2 separate regions of the Homo sapiens genome follow, and region 1 is linked to region 2. The links come from fine-mapping of genetic effects on gene expression. A gene starts in region 2. The other region holds a variant in brackets. All regions are shown on one strand. Distances are between the middles of the regions.

Region 1 (4,381 bases), 28 kb after region 2:
GCCAGGGACAGGCTAAACTGGAGGCCCAGGCTTGCCAGCACCATCTGTGTGCCCTGAGGACCCAGCCTCAGTGTCCCCATCTATAAAACAAGTGGGTTGAACAAGGACAGAGGGCTCTGCAGAGGTGCCTTGGTGGAGGGAGGTGAGGAAAAGGGAGCTCTCTGCTCCCACCCACTCCATGCAGCCTTCTGCTGGGGACCATGCCACGGGAGCTAGGGAGGGGAGCAGCACCCCTCTTCGGAGATGGATTGGGATTGGCTCTGCCTAGTAGGAAGGAAGTCTCAGTTCTCTTGCAGAATGAGTTTAAGGATTCAGAGCCCTGAAGGTTTTTCCAGTGAGCCAAATGCCCTGCCCAATCACTAGGAGTAGGGGGATACAGGGTGAGCGTGGGCACAGCAATAAAATCATCACAGTCCCAAGCCTGGCTTGACCTTGATTCTGCTGATCCGAGGTCAGGGTCTCAGAGAGCTTTGGGGCTTAGGGTGGTAGGACTTAGAGGCAGGGGAGGGGCCTATGGTCAATATTGATCTAGCTGAGTCAGGGGAGGACAGGGAAGTGGGAAGCCTGGGGTGGGGCTCCCTGATAACTGCATCTTCAGGCTGCCATTGTGACTGTGGAAACGGGGTGGGGACAATGCGGGGAGGGGGAAGGGATGCTCCATGCAAATTCCCAAACCTGGGCTTTTACTAAAACTACAGCTGCCTGGACCCCTGCCCAGAAGAATGGCTCTTATTCTGTGAGGGTGGGGCCCAAAACATCTGTGTGTTTAGCAAACTCCCTGGTGAATCTGCAGCAGCCAGCTCAGTTCTCACATATGGGGCCCACAGGTTCAGTGTCATTGTAATATGAGGAAACGAAGGCCCAGAGAGGGGATGTGACTCCTCCAAGGTCACTTTGGGAGAGGATGCTGACAGTCCTCCCTTTTCTCCTGGAAGGAAGGAGTCATCCCCCTCCAGCTCCCTCCACCTCCAGTTGAGGCCCTGGGTCTGGGAAGGAATGGCTGGGCCAGGGCGTCCTGAGGGAAGTGGCCTCTGAGACTTTGGTGGCCCTGGGTGGAGAAGGGAGGGCAGGGCTGGTCCCAGGAGGAAGGACAAGGAGAGGGCATTTCCACGGGACTGGACCTGCCCCACCCTGCCCTATGCACACCCCCCAGCACCTGCCAGGGGATGTTTCCTGAAAGATTTAGCACAACCCATGCCCTGAGAAGGCACCACATCATGGCAGATTCGGGGCTCACTCAGCCCTTAGACACCTCCGGCCCCCATGGCCTCCTCCCAAGCCTGTTCTGCTCACCCTGCCGCCACAGTTCTGGGCTCCCAGCCTTTGCTCTGGCCTCCACACTCTCCCTGCCTCCATCCCATCAAGCACCCCACGAAGTTTTATCCAGCCCAGTCACCATCTCTCCTTCTCCTTCCTCTGGGCTCCTGCACACTTTGCACCTCCAGATCCAGCCCCCATCCCAGCCTTCCTTGAGTTCTTGCTCTTTGCATGTCTCTCACTGTCTGGAATGGCATCAGAGATTCTTGGGGGACAGAAGTCATGAGACAGGTCTAGCTTATCACTGAGCCCTCCTTGGAGCCCAGCCCAGCCACAGCATGCCCCAGGGAAGCAGGTGTGGGAAGCAGGTGTGGGAAGCAGGTGTTCACAGCAGCTGAGAGCCTCAATCTCACCTCCCTCCCTCGTGCCCTGGGCCATCTTGGGTGGGTTCCTTTCCTCTGGGCACCTTCTTATTAACGGAATAAAGAGAATAGTAGTGCCCTCAGTGGAGGGGTATGCTGAAGATTGAGAGAGCACCTATAAAAGAGGTGGGGCGTGCCTGGCACTCAGTCAGTTCCCACTGTTAACCGTTGTTATTTCTGGGTGGGTGGAATACTCATGCCCACACAGCCTCCACTCCTCCTTCATTCCAGGGGCACATCTGCTAGGGGTCTTCTCTATGCAAGAATGACAGTATCTGCCACGTACATCCGGAGCACGGACAAGATGCTGTCCTGCCTTCAAGGAGCACACAGTTCTGCAGAAACTTGCTTAGGTGACTTCAAACCAGAGATCTGTGGTGAGGAAGGTGGAGCAGATTGTGGAAGCCCATGGAGGGACCTAGCCCAGGGACGGGGGAGGCTGGGGAGGGTGAGGGAACTTCCCAGAGAAGATGCTGGAGCCATGTCCTGAAGGGTGAGAAGGTGTCACAGTGCGCTCAGTGGGAAAATGCAAGGGAAATGGCCCTCTGCAGTGCCCTTTGGAGTATGGAGACTGTGGGTGTAGACAACCGAGAGAGAAGACAGTAGCTGGAAGGGGACAGAGTGTCAAAAGGGGAGGAGGTCCTAAGAATCCCAGTCACTCCTCGCTGGCTGTCCAGAGACCAGGGACAGGGCAGCACCGACCAGGGCAGGGGAGGCCCCTGGAGGGAACAGAGCACTGTGCTCTGAGTTAGAAGGCTGGGGTGAGCAC[T/C]GGTCAGAGTCTTGCAAGAAGTCTCTTTGCCTTTGAGTCTCATCATTTTCATCTTCAAAATAGGACTGTTGTAACTAGGACAAGAGGTGTTGTGAAAGCACTTTGTGAACTGTAGAGCATCATTCTCCTGTGAGATAATAATAGTGTTTTAAGTGGAGTCGGTACTTTTTGAGAGTTAAAGGATATCTCACAGGGCATGGTAGACGTACTAGGGCCAAGGACTGCCTGAAACCTGCTCCTGTGCTGCCACCTGCTGGTGAAGGGACACAATGACCACCCAAGCCCTCAAAGCTTTCTGCAGGGGCCAGGCAGGAGCCACTGGGGCAAGTGAAGGCAGGGCTGGGAGGACGCCTGCCACTAAACCCTTGAGGACATCGGTGATGTCCGCAATAATAAAAAACTCTTCATTTTTTACTATTGGCATCTAATTCAAATTTAAAACATCATCCGCAAAGGTGGCAAATGGAAGCCCCCAAGCCTCTCTTGCTTTTCTCAGCCTTGGCCTGTGTTCTTACTGTGAAGGTCCTCCCCTGTGTGCAAGGGGCACACTCCCTATAGACACTGCCCCTGGCCATTCCACACACCAGCAGTGAGGATAGACCCGGAAGGCAGCTGGTGCAGGGATTCTGGAGTGCCAGGCACCCGGAGTATGGTCTAGAGGGAACTGTGGGCTCCGATGGGCACCTTTCCTTGGCCCCGTGGCATCCAGGCCTCTGGGCAATGGATGGGTGACCAGCTTGTCTGGTTGGCCTGGTGCTGTCCTGTTTTGAGCACTGAAAATCTCACACAGGTATCTGGGAAGGTTGGCCACTCTACCGTGGCCTGAAGGTGGCCAAAGCCTCTGCATCACCACTTTGGCTCTGCCCTGCCAGAAGCCAGCAGCTCGGGCTCCAAGGACCAAAGTGTCCCAGGCACTAGGTCCAGACATATGTTTATGGGTAAAGAGACCCTTCCTCCCCTTCCCCATTCTTTAAAGCACTCTCTGGCATGGTGAGTCCTGAGCACTCATCTGTGAGGCTGGGCTGAGGGAAGAGAATGGGTGGGGGACTTGTGGAATAACCTCCACATTGTACAGGGAAACTGAGGCCCAGAGGAGAAGAACCTTGCCCCAGGGCCCAAGAGAGGCTTTAGCTCTTGGCTGCTCAGGCAACCCATAGCCACCCCTTTGCTCTTGTTGAGGGTACCCCCATGTGCCTGGGAGAAAGCTGACCCCATCCCTGGCTCTACAGGTGGGGCATGTGGTCCAGGCATAATCCCACAGTGACTGGCTCAGCCTTGAGCATGTGACCACAGTTGGTCCAATCAGAATGAAGACCAGGACTTTTATTTTGCCATGGGGCAGATCTGGAACTGGAAACTAACAAAAACCTCCCAGCTCAGGGGCTTGACCAAGACAGGGACACACAGAGTGCACAGAAGTTTGTAGCTATTTATTGCACTGAAAACACCAAGAATAAAACAAACGCCCCTTCTTCCCATCCCACCCGCCCCCCCCAATAGCAGAAAGTTTGAGCAGTGTTCATTCAAGTTCACAGCCACATATTTTTAAAAAAGAAAAGAAAAAAAAAAAGAACTAAAACAAAACCCCAAACAAATAGTAACAAAGAAACCAGCACGGGGAGTCTGGCAAACTCATCCCCCAAAAGGGTCTCCCTTTGAAGGGAGACAGGAGGCCTTGGGTCAGGATTCGCACCATGGTGGGCACAAACCCAGGAGAACACTTTCCTGTAAACGTGTTTTCATGCTGGAGCCAAGGTTTTGACTTGGGTTTGGATTTTTATTTATTTATTTATTATTATTATTATTATTATTTTGCATCTAAAGGATGTTTTGGAGGAGCACAGAGTTTGTCTGGTGAGGGTAGGCTCTGGGCAGATTTTTCTGTGAGTCTCCCCTGCCTGCCACATCAGGATCATCCCTGGTGCCCTGTGGT
Region 2 (4,356 bases):
GGAGCCACTGCACATCAACCTGGGTAATAGAGCAAGATCTCTCTCAAAAAAATAAAGAAAAGAAAATCTTTGAGTTTTGTTTGTTTTATGAAAGGGCAGACTTTCCCCACCAGGGCTGTGGGGATGGAGGTGATGGTGGCAGAGAGGTATGAGCTAGAGGGCAGAGCCTGGGTGAGGTCAGACTCCTAGGTTATAGACATGATCCTGTCTTTACTGAATCACTGAGTGATTTTGCAAATCCTGCCCCTCTGGGTCTCAGTTTCCCTATCTGAAAGGCATGGGCCTAGATCCATTTGCACCTCACAGTCCCAGTGACTGCCACAGTGGCTCAGTGGTCACCCCCTGATGTGTCTGCTCAAGGGAAGCTAAAGCCCTGGTCCACTCCCTTCTTCTCCCCCAGGGCTGGGTCCGTGAAGTGGGAGGAGCAGGTGCTGCTAGGAAGGGTCATAAAGAGGCCAGTCTTCTTGGCTCCTGAGCCAACTGCCTCATCCCTGCTCGCTGTCCCTGTGGCCCTCTGTGCCTTCCAAAGGGTCTCATGAAACCCAAGTGCCAATGGGAGGGAGTGGTTGAGCAAGGTTGAGCCTCTTTTGTACAAGATGCATTGACAAGCCTTGGGTGAGGGATGGGGAAGTTTCCTGCCTGGGCCTCCTTGGATTCAGGAGCCCTTGGCTTCTGCCTTTCCCAGCCATGACCCACAGCTTTCCTGGCTTCATCCCCAACGCCCAGTGCATGACTTCACTCCTCTGGGACAGTTTCCACAGGTGTAAAATGAGATGCACAAACATGTCTTCCCAGACAGTTGGAAAGAATTAAAAATTAGATGTTGGATGCAAAAATCCTTCATAATGCACACAGTAGGGCTCCATAAATGCTCCTTCTCTTCACACTCACAGCCACTCTTGGCCCCATATGGGTCAGCAGGCAGGGGGCAGAGGAGACACCTTCCTCCTGGGTCTGGAGAGCCCCTGGTTTGCCCTTTGTGGCCAGGCTCAAAGGGGAGAGAAGTTTGACAGGACCTGGGCAGGGGAAGGGGTGGACTGGAGCCTGGCCAGGCCTTTACCCAAGTCCATGCTTTGACTTAAACCCCTCCAACCTTTTTTCAAGCTCCAGAGGTGGGAGAGAGCAGAACCTTATTCTCATCTCTCCCCAAAGGCCTCCCACCGTGTCAACTGATAGTGAGCCAAACAGATGTATGGTTAATGTCTAAACTGGGACACTTGCGAGGGTGAAAAGGACACAATTTGTAATGTATATACTGATCCGCTAGTGTCTATCAGTCAGTCCCAGCAAACCAACGTGTGCCATTGCTCCAGCTCATCATTTCCCATCCTAGCCACAGGCTCACTGGACCCTCAGAACATTCTGAGGCAACAATGCATGGGCGGCTCGTGGCCCATTTTACAGATATGAAATTAGAACTTTCCAGAAGCCATACTGCTGCTGGACAGGAAACCAGTTACTAATCATCTAAGTCACAGATCACAGTGACACTGTGGCACTTGCCTGTCCCTTCTGCTCACCCAAACCTCCCCATTTTGCTTTCATCTTAAGGAAAGGAGGAGAGTTGAAGACTCTACTAGCCTAAAGGTCCATGAAGCCTGACTCTGTCCCTGGTGTCACTCATTAGCCCCGTGACTTTGAGTAAGTAACTTAACTTCCCTGTCCCTCAGCTTCCTCATCTGTAGAATAGGAGTAACGACACCTGTCTCTCCAGGTTGAGAAAATAGGACACCTAGTTCAGGACCTGGCACATTTTAGGTGCTCAATAAATACTGATAGATTGAATAATTGGACTAATGGTGGCGTGGGCAACCCACAGTCAGTGAATAAATGTTAACTGAGCACCTACTATGTGTCAGGCTCTTTGTGCTAGATGTTTTCTATGCTCCATCTTCCTGAATTGCTCACACTCCTGTAAGAGAGGAGAGATTCTTATCCCCTAAGGTCGCACAGCAAAGACGACGCAGGGGGGTGGGCTGTTAGTGTTCCTTGCCCAACTGTGGAAAGGGAGTCCCAGAGAGGGCAGGTCGCTTGCCCAAGGTCACGCAGAAAGCCGAGGGTTTCCGTCGCGAACCCCCCTCCCCACTCGCTCAGGGCTCTCCAATCCGCAGCTCTGCGTGCGGGGGCGCGCGCATCCCCCCGCCGTCCGTCCGTCAGCTGTCTGTCTGGGTGTCTATGCGGGCGCAGCAGTGCACCCTTCCCCAGCCTCGGGCGCTGCGCAGGGACAGACAAGGCATTCGCAGCGCCCTGCCCGCGCTCCACGCCCGCAGCCGCCAGACGGCAGCGCCTGCGTCCGTGCCCGCCCCAGCCGGTGCGCGGGAGCCGCGGGGGCAAAGGCGCAGTGGCCAGCGGACCATCTCTCGTGCCCTCGCTCTCTGCGCTCCGGGGCAGCTGAGCCCCGGCCACCCGCTCTCCAAGATGAAGAAGCTCCAGGGAGCTCACCTCCGCAAGGTAGGGCACGAGGGCGGGGGCGCTGGGGGTGCACCTGGAGGAGGGTTGGAGAGACCCGCCCCCAACGAGGCCCCTGGGGAAGGTCTGAGGATGCACCCAGACCAGCTTCGGGCTCTGGGGAAGGCCCGACTCAGCTGGATAACAGGGAGGGTCAGGGTCACGGTCTGCGCCCCCACCTCTGCCCCTGCCATCTGGGGTTCGGGATGTAGTATGAGGGGAGTCCTGGTTCACTGGGCCAGGCCTATGAACAGGTGTCTGCAGTCCCCGGAGGCGCGGGGTAGGGGCGGCCGGGGCCAGGCACCCACCTCTTCCCCAATTCCACCCTGCTGCTCCCCGCCAGGAGCTGATTGCCGGGTGTGGGGGGTATTGGAATACCTGAGCGTTGAGCTGGACTCATCTGAGGGGTGGGGAGTGGGAGGCGGTCATCCATACTGAAGCCGGCTCCCTGAGCCTGCGGGAAGACTCTCCTCTTTCCTGCCTGCTCCCTCCCCGCCCCCTTAGCTTGCCTGCTGAGACCCCAGGCTGCCCCTCAGCAGGGCTGAAGGGAGGCAAAGACAGGGAGGGGGCTATCGGAGGCAGGAGGATATGATCAATGAAGATGGAAGCTGGTATGGGAGAGTGGCTGTGGGCCCAGACCTCAGGCTCTCCCTACCTTGCCTTGTGGGATTGGACCTCTCAGCCAAGCTGTCAGGATATGGGGAGGGGGAATACTGGGGGACGTTTTCTGGCTTGTACCAGTCCTAACTAAGGAGTCAGATCTCCTGAATACTATTTCTGCCGCTGCCACTTGCCTGGTGACTTTGGACAAGTTCATTCTCTAACCTGAACCTCCTCTGGCTAAGCCCTAGCCTGGAGGCACCAAAACAGGCCCCACTGGGTGTGTGAGGTGTGGGGAAGAATGCTAAAGGGCTGGTAGATGTGAGAAGACTGTTCTCAGGGGCTGGTGTTATCAACCTCCCTACATACACACACATTCACACTCACACTCACTCACACACACACTCATTCATTCAAGTTCTCTGCTCTGGGGCAGCTGGGCTTGGAACCACTGTGGTGTGTCTTTTTTCTTTTTCTTGTTTTTTTTTTTTGAGACGGAGTCTCGCTCTGTCACCCAGGTTGGAGTGCAGTGGTGTGATCTCGGCTCACTGCAAGCTCTGCCTCCCGGGTTCACGCCATTCTCCTGCCTCAGCCTCCCGAGTAGCTGGGACTATAGGCGCCCGCCACCACGCCTGGCTAATGTTTTGTATTTTTAGTAGAGACGGGGTTTCACCGTGTTAGCCAGGATGGTCTTGATCTTCTGACCTCGTGATCCGCCCGCCTCGGCCTCCCAAAGTGCTGGGATTACAGGTGTGAGTCACTGCGCCCAGCTGGTATGTCTTTTTTATTCACTGACATGAGTGACTTCTTGAGACCATTTGTGAGTCTCTTGGGTCCTGTTTCCATTCTTTTCCACTCTCCTTCTCTTCCCTCTCTGCCCTCCCTCCCCACAAGAGGCCCTGTCCCTCTTGCTGGGTGCTGGGCTGGGGGGTTAGCAAGCTTTATCTCATTTAATCCTTTAACACTTCCAGGGGCTAGGTCTTAGTAGCCCCACTTTATAAATAAGGCAACTGAGGCACAGAGGGGTGAGACTCACTGCTTACCTGCTGGCAGGCTAGGCAACCTAGAGCCAACAGGGCAGAGGGTTGGTTCTAGGTTGCTACCTCCTCTCAGGGTCCTTTCCCTTTTCTCAAGCAGAATTGGGCGGGAATGAGAAAATGCCAGATTTCCGCAAAGGAGCAGCATTGCTCAGAGATGAACACTGGACTTAGAGTCAGGGGATCTAGGTCCAAGTCTTGCTGTGCCTTTAACTTGCTGTTTGACCTTGGGCTCATCCCTTCTTCCTGAAACTTGGTTTCCTAATCTGCA

Direction of the effects. Positions count from the first base shown, and alleles are read on the strand shown. Sizes are in standard deviations (SD) of each study's normalised expression.
As copies of T replace C in region 1, the expression in subcutaneous fat of the gene that starts at base 2,153 in region 2 goes down (moderate effect, 0.49 SD a copy in GTEx).

Evidence for each region.
Region 1: its variant is fine-mapped to the expression of SLC6A7 in subcutaneous fat (GTEx, PIP 0.94).

Annotation. Positions count from the first base shown.
Region 1 is chr5:150,215,634-150,220,014 of GRCh38, forward strand. It overlaps CAMK2A (calcium/calmodulin dependent protein kinase II alpha), which reads right to left. Exons shown (of 19, transcript NM_015981.4): 19 at 3,858-4,381. Among named protein-coding and RNA genes, the nearest start is that of SLC6A7, 28 kb to the left of the region's middle. The variant T/C (reference allele first, on the strand shown) is at 2,449.
Region 2 is chr5:150,187,910-150,192,265 of GRCh38, forward strand. SLC6A7 (solute carrier family 6 member 7) reads left to right here and starts at 2,153. Exons shown (of 14, transcript NM_014228.5): 1 at 2,153-2,451. The coding sequence starts at 2,419.